Regions from separate parts of the Homo sapiens genome. Here region 1 is linked to region 2. The links come from fine-mapping of genetic effects on gene expression. A gene starts in region 2. The other region holds a variant in brackets. All regions are shown on one strand. Distances are from middle to middle. Region 1 overlaps WDR47 (WD repeat domain 47). Region 2 holds the start of CLCC1 (chloride channel CLIC like 1).

Evidence for each region. PIP is the estimated chance that this variant, and not a neighbour inherited with it, causes the effect. A credible set is the group of variants that fine-mapping cannot tell apart.
Region 1: its variant is the best candidate, but not a certain one, in a credible set for the expression of CLCC1 in iPS cells (HipSci, PIP 0.72).

Annotation. Positions count from the first base shown.
Region 1 is chr1:109,016,930-109,019,742 of GRCh38, forward strand. WDR47 (WD repeat domain 47) reads right to left here. Exons shown (of 15, transcript NM_001142551.2): 3 at 589-672. Among named protein-coding and RNA genes, the nearest start is that of WDR47, 24 kb to the right of the region's middle. The variant C/CA (reference allele first, on the strand shown) is at 1,507.
Region 2 is chr1:108,962,020-108,964,832 of GRCh38, forward strand. CLCC1 (chloride channel CLIC like 1) reads right to left here and starts at 1,465. Exons shown (of 13, transcript NM_001377458.1): 1 at 1,342-1,465; 2 at 290-450. RefSeq lists enhancers at 1-168, 541-660 and silencers at 588-882, 1,021-1,260.

The DNA.
Region 1 (2,813 bases), 55 kb after region 2:
GACCTAAAGAAAAATATAATCATAATGAATGAACAGATGGAAAAATCTTACAAAAAAATTATACGAATTTGAAAATGAAAAGCACAATATTCAAAATGAAAAATTCACTGTTGAATTTGAAGCTGCAGTGCCACATACATGCCACTGCACATCAGCCTGGTGGTAGAACAAGAACCTGTTTTTAAAAATTCACAATTTATCAACAGATTGCTAATAGCAAAAGAAAGGGTCAGTGAACATTAAATCAACTTAAAATAATCCAAATGAACACAAGGGAAGCCTGGGCAACATGGTGAAACCCTAACTCTAAAAAAAATACAAAATTAGCTAGGCTGATGGTACACGCCTGTATAGTCCCAGCTACTTGAGAGGCTGAAGTGGGAGGATTGCTTGAGCCCAGGAGACCAAGGCTGCAGTGAGCTGTGATCATGCCACCACACTCCAGCTTGGGTGACAGAGAGAGATCAATTTGTTTACTCTCTGTTCAAGGCCAGTGGAGAAAGAAAAATGAAAATGAAAATTTTTGTTCATTGTTTTGCTAAGCTTCTACCAATGATGAGACACTAAAAACTTTAGATAAAATCTTACCTTTTTTTGTCAAATTTTTCCATACATTCTAGAGGCTGAATGAACTGAAGAACTTCATCCCATTGACCATCAAGTATTAGCTGCCTAAATAAAAAATTTAAAAAAACCAGCATGTCACCAAATTCAGGTTATACTAATTAAAAGCAGAACAGATGACAAAACAGCATTCAAACTTCATAAAGCACACAATGAGATTAACATTTTATTTGATTCCTCAAATAAATTTTTCATAATTTTTTTTTTTTTTGAGACAGAGTGTCGCTCTGTTGCCCAGGCTGGAGTGCAATGGCACAATCTCGGCTCACTGCACCCTCTGACTCCTGTGTTCAAGCGATTCTCCTGCCTCAGACACCCGAGAAGCTGGGACTATAGGCTCGCACCACTAAGCCCCACTAATTCTTTTCTATTTTTAGTAGATACAGGGTTTCACCATGTTGGCCAGGCTGGTCTCAAGCTCCTGACCTCAGGTGATCCACCCACCTCAGCCTCTCAAAGTGCTGGGATTACAAGCGTGAGTCACCTCACCTGGCCTAAATTTTTCATAACTTATTTGTAACAACATACACTGTATGAGAAGAATTTGTGAATCTGCAACCACTCATACTAACTATATATATGTGGGTTTTGACCTATGTAAAAACATTGGACATGCCAGGCGTGGTGGCTCACACCTGTAATCCCAGCACTTTGGGAGGCCAAGGTGGGCAGATCACCTGAGGTCAGGAGTTTGAGACCACCCTGCCCAACATGGCGAAACCCCGTCTCTACTAAAAGTACGAAAATTAGCTGGCCGTGGTGGCGGGCGCCCGTAATCCCAGCTACTGGCAGGAGAAGCTTGAACCTGGGCGGCAGAGGTTGCAGTGAGCCAAGATCACGCCACTGCACTCTAGCCTGGGCAACAAAAGAGAGACTCTGTCT[C/CA]AAAAAAAAAAAAAAAATGGACTAAGCTTTAAAGTTCCTATATTTCCATATTCATCTTACAGTTTTAAAGCTATTATATATTATTTTAAGAACAAGTGGCTGGGCGCAGTGGCTCATGTCTGTGGTCCCAGCACTTTAGGAAGCTAAGGTAAGCAATTCACTCGAGCTCAGGAGTTCGAAACCAGCCTGGGAAACATGGCGAAACCCTGGCTCTACAAAAAATACAAAAATTAGCCAGGCATGGTTGTGCATGCCTGTGGTCCCAGCTACTCGGGAGGCTGAGGTGGGAGGATCACTTGAGCCCAGATGTCAAGGCTGCAGTGAGCTGAGATTGTGCCACTGCACTCCAGCCTGGGCAACAGAGTGAGACCCTGTCTCAAAAAAACACACACAAAAAAGAAAGAACAGGTGATCATTTGAGCCCAGCAGTTCAAGACTAGCCTGGGCAACATGCAAAACCCCATCTCTACAAAAAATTTAAAAATTAGCTGGGCATGGTGGTACATGCCTGTAGTCCCAGCTATTCAGAAGGCTGAGGTGGGATAATCGCTTGAGTCAAGAAGGTCATGGCTGCAGTGACCATGATCATGCCACTCCACTCCAGCCTGGCAGCCTAGGTGACATAGCAAGACCCTGTTTCAAAAAAAAAGTAAAAAGAATTTTAAAAGCTGGGAGTGGGCCAGGCATGGTGGCTGTCAGCATTTTTGGAGGCCGAGGCAGACAGATCACCTGAGGTCAGGAGTTCAAGACCAGGCTGGCCAACATGGCGAAACACCATCTCTACTAAAAATACAAAAATTAGCCAGGCGTGGTGGCAGGTGCCTGTAATCCCAGCTTACTCGGGAAGCTGAGGCAGGGAGAATTGCTTGAACCTACAAGGCACGTTACAGTGAGCCGAAGTCACGCCACTGCAGTCCAGCCTGGGCGACAGAGTGAGACTCTGTCTCAAAAAAAAAAAAAAAAAAAGCTGGGAGTGGTGGCTCACACCTGTAATCCCAACATGTTAGGAGGCTGAGGCACCATGGTGAAAATCCATCTCAACTGGGGGTGATTTTGCATTCTGTCAGGACATTTGGCAACATCTAAAGACATTTTTGGTAGTCACAACTGGGGATACTACTGGGATCTAGTGGGTAGATCTACTGGGATCTAGTTGGGGATGCCGTTAACATCCTACAACAAAGGACAACCCTCCACAACAAAGAATTATCTGGCCCAGATGCTAGCAGTGCCAAGGCTGAGAAACTCTGCTCTACATTGTGAATTCTATGTGAAATCTACAGCTTTGAGAATACAGTTTACACTGA
Region 2 (2,813 bases):
TAGAACCCAGACTGGCTCTACCTAAACTGCCTCTCCAGGGCAAAAGTACTAATGGCTCTCAGGGGCTTCTCTGAGAGGATAGGGTCTTAGAGTGGAGAGGACCTGTTGGAACGACATCTCCACAGAGCGGGAAATAGGGAGAGTAGTTTATAGTAGCTACTAGACTGGAGAACTACCAGGAAACACAGATCGTCGTGCAGACGGCCAGGCAGTGAGTAGAAATGGGCACAAAAGAAAAAGTCTTTGGTTTCAACGAAAGCACATGAGTAATGGGAAAGGCAAGACTAACCTGGATTAGTAGAGTCAAATCCTGTTTTAGACTAGAAGTACCAGGGTATAAGTCGGGAGGCTGCAACTTATTTCGTATGCTTATGCAGTTTCTTGGAACCATGGCTCTCAAACTTGCGAATTTGCATTTTTAACAATTTCCCAGATGACGATAAAGCTAGTCTGGGAAGAACACTTCATAATCACTATTATAAAGAAAACCTGAATTGTTTTTCACCACCCAGTAATAAACCTACAGCTTATGGTGTGTCTAACTTTTTACACTCAAATCAGATTTGGAGCCAGGCGCAATGGCTCACGCTTGTAATCCCAGCACTTTGGGAGGCCAAGATGGGAAGATCCTTTGAGCCCAGGAGTCAGAGACAAGCCTGGACAACACAGGGAGACCCCTTCTCTACAAATAAAATTTACAAATTAGCCGGGCCTGGTGGCGCGCACCTGTGGTCCCATCTACTCAGGTGGCTGAGGCAGGAGAATCGCTGGAACCCGGAAGGCGGAGGTTGCCGTGAGCGGAGATAGCACCACCGCACTCCAGCCTGGGTGACACAGCAAGACTCCGTCTCAAAAAAAAAAAAAAAATCCATTTTGGAGGTTGTTTTGTGTCCGTTTTTGTTGTTGTTGTTAACTGTGTTAATTCACAGATTTGAAGTTTTAGAAAATTAACTACAACTAAATCCGAGCTATTCTGCTGACAGCATTTATTCAAATTATGCTTAAAGTTTTCAGAGATAACCAAAGCCAACAGAATTCAACGTGCGCTCAGGTCTCGCTTTGCCCTCGCTGTGCCTTCTCCGTAGGCCGCTCTCTGGGCCAAGCACCTCCCCGGAACGCGCGCAACCGCGGCGGACAGGCAGCCGCCGGCGCGGGAGCTGAGGTAGGAGCCCGGGGCACCCACAGGCCGCAGCGGACGCACGCAGCTAGCACGGTCCCCGCCCCGGGTCGCGCCTGCGGCCTCCCCAGCGTCTGCGCCGCGAGTCCGCTGGACCCGCCAGGGCGTAACGGCGGGTAACCCGCCCCACCCGCCGCACAACACACCCAACTGCACGGACTCACGTCCGGGATCCCCTGCCTGCCTCTCGAGGAAGACACCTGCCCAGGCCGGCCGCAGAAGAGGTCGCACAGCTTGCCGCCGCCCAGGGTTTCAGCGTGCTTCCTGGGCCTCGTCATCGAATTGTTCGGCTGACGGCTGCGTGTCCCTCCCCCGTTGCGGGCCGCTGATTGGCCTCGTTGATTGGGCGGGGCTAGTAGCGGGACCGGCCTCTGCGCGCGGGTTATTTTCGCCGCGGATTTTCTTTTACTTTTCATCTGCGGAACTCTTTCTGCGAAGGAAATCTCGCCTGGAACTCAAATATATACAACGGATAGGAAACCTATTTTCTTACTATTAATATATTTGATAAGTTTGAATGTGTAACATTCGCCATGAAACGCAAGCATGATTTTTTTTTTTTTGAGGCAGAGTCTCACAGTGTTGCCCAGGCTGGAGTGCAGTGGCGCGATCTCGGCTCGGCTCACTGCAACCTCTGCCTCCCGGGTTCAAGCAATTCTCCTCTCTCAGCCTCCCGAGCAGCTGGGACTACAAGCGCGCACCACCACATCCAGCTAATGTGTATTTTTAGCAGAGACAGGGTTTCACCATGTTGGCTAGGCTGGTCTCGAACTCCTGACCTCAGGTGATCCGCCCGCCTCGGCCTCCCAAAATGCTGGGATTACAGGTGTAAGCCACCGCGCCTAGCCACAAGCATAATTTTTTAAAGGGAGGATCACGAATGACAACTGTAGTTCTACTCAGGGCAGGACAAGGGAAAGGTCTGCACACTGTAGGGCAGTTGGAAGTAGTTTTGTTTTTGTCTTTAACTGCTGGCCTTGCAATCTCGGGAAACTGTGAAGATGGTAAAATTTACTATCTTAACCATTTTTAAAGGTACAATTCAGTGGTATTAGATACATTCACATTGTTATGCAACCATTACCACCATCCATCTCCAGCACTCATCTTGCAAAACTGAAACTCTGTACCCAGTAAGTGGTAACGCCTCATTCTTCCCCTCCCTCCTTCCCAGCGACTACCATTCTTTCTGTCTTTATGAATTTGACTACTCTAGGTATTTCATATAAGGACTCATACAGCATTTGTCTTTTTGTAACTGATTTCACTTACCATAATGTCCTCAAGGTTCATCCATGTGGTAACGTGTCAGAATTTCTTTTAAGGCTGAATAGTATTCCATTTTATGTATATACCAGTTCATTCAGTCATCTGTTAATGGATAACAGGTTGTTTCCACTTTTGGCTACTGTGAAATAATACTGTAAACATGGATATACAAATATCTGTTTTTTAACCCTTTTGGGTATACACACAGATGTTCAAATATCTGTTGCTTTCAACTCCTGAATATATATACACAAGTGGAATTGCTGGATTATGTAGTAATTCTATTTTTAATTTTTTGAGGATCTGCCGTACTTTTTTTTTTTTTGAGATGGAGTTTCACTCTTGTTGCCCAGGCTGGAGTGCAGTG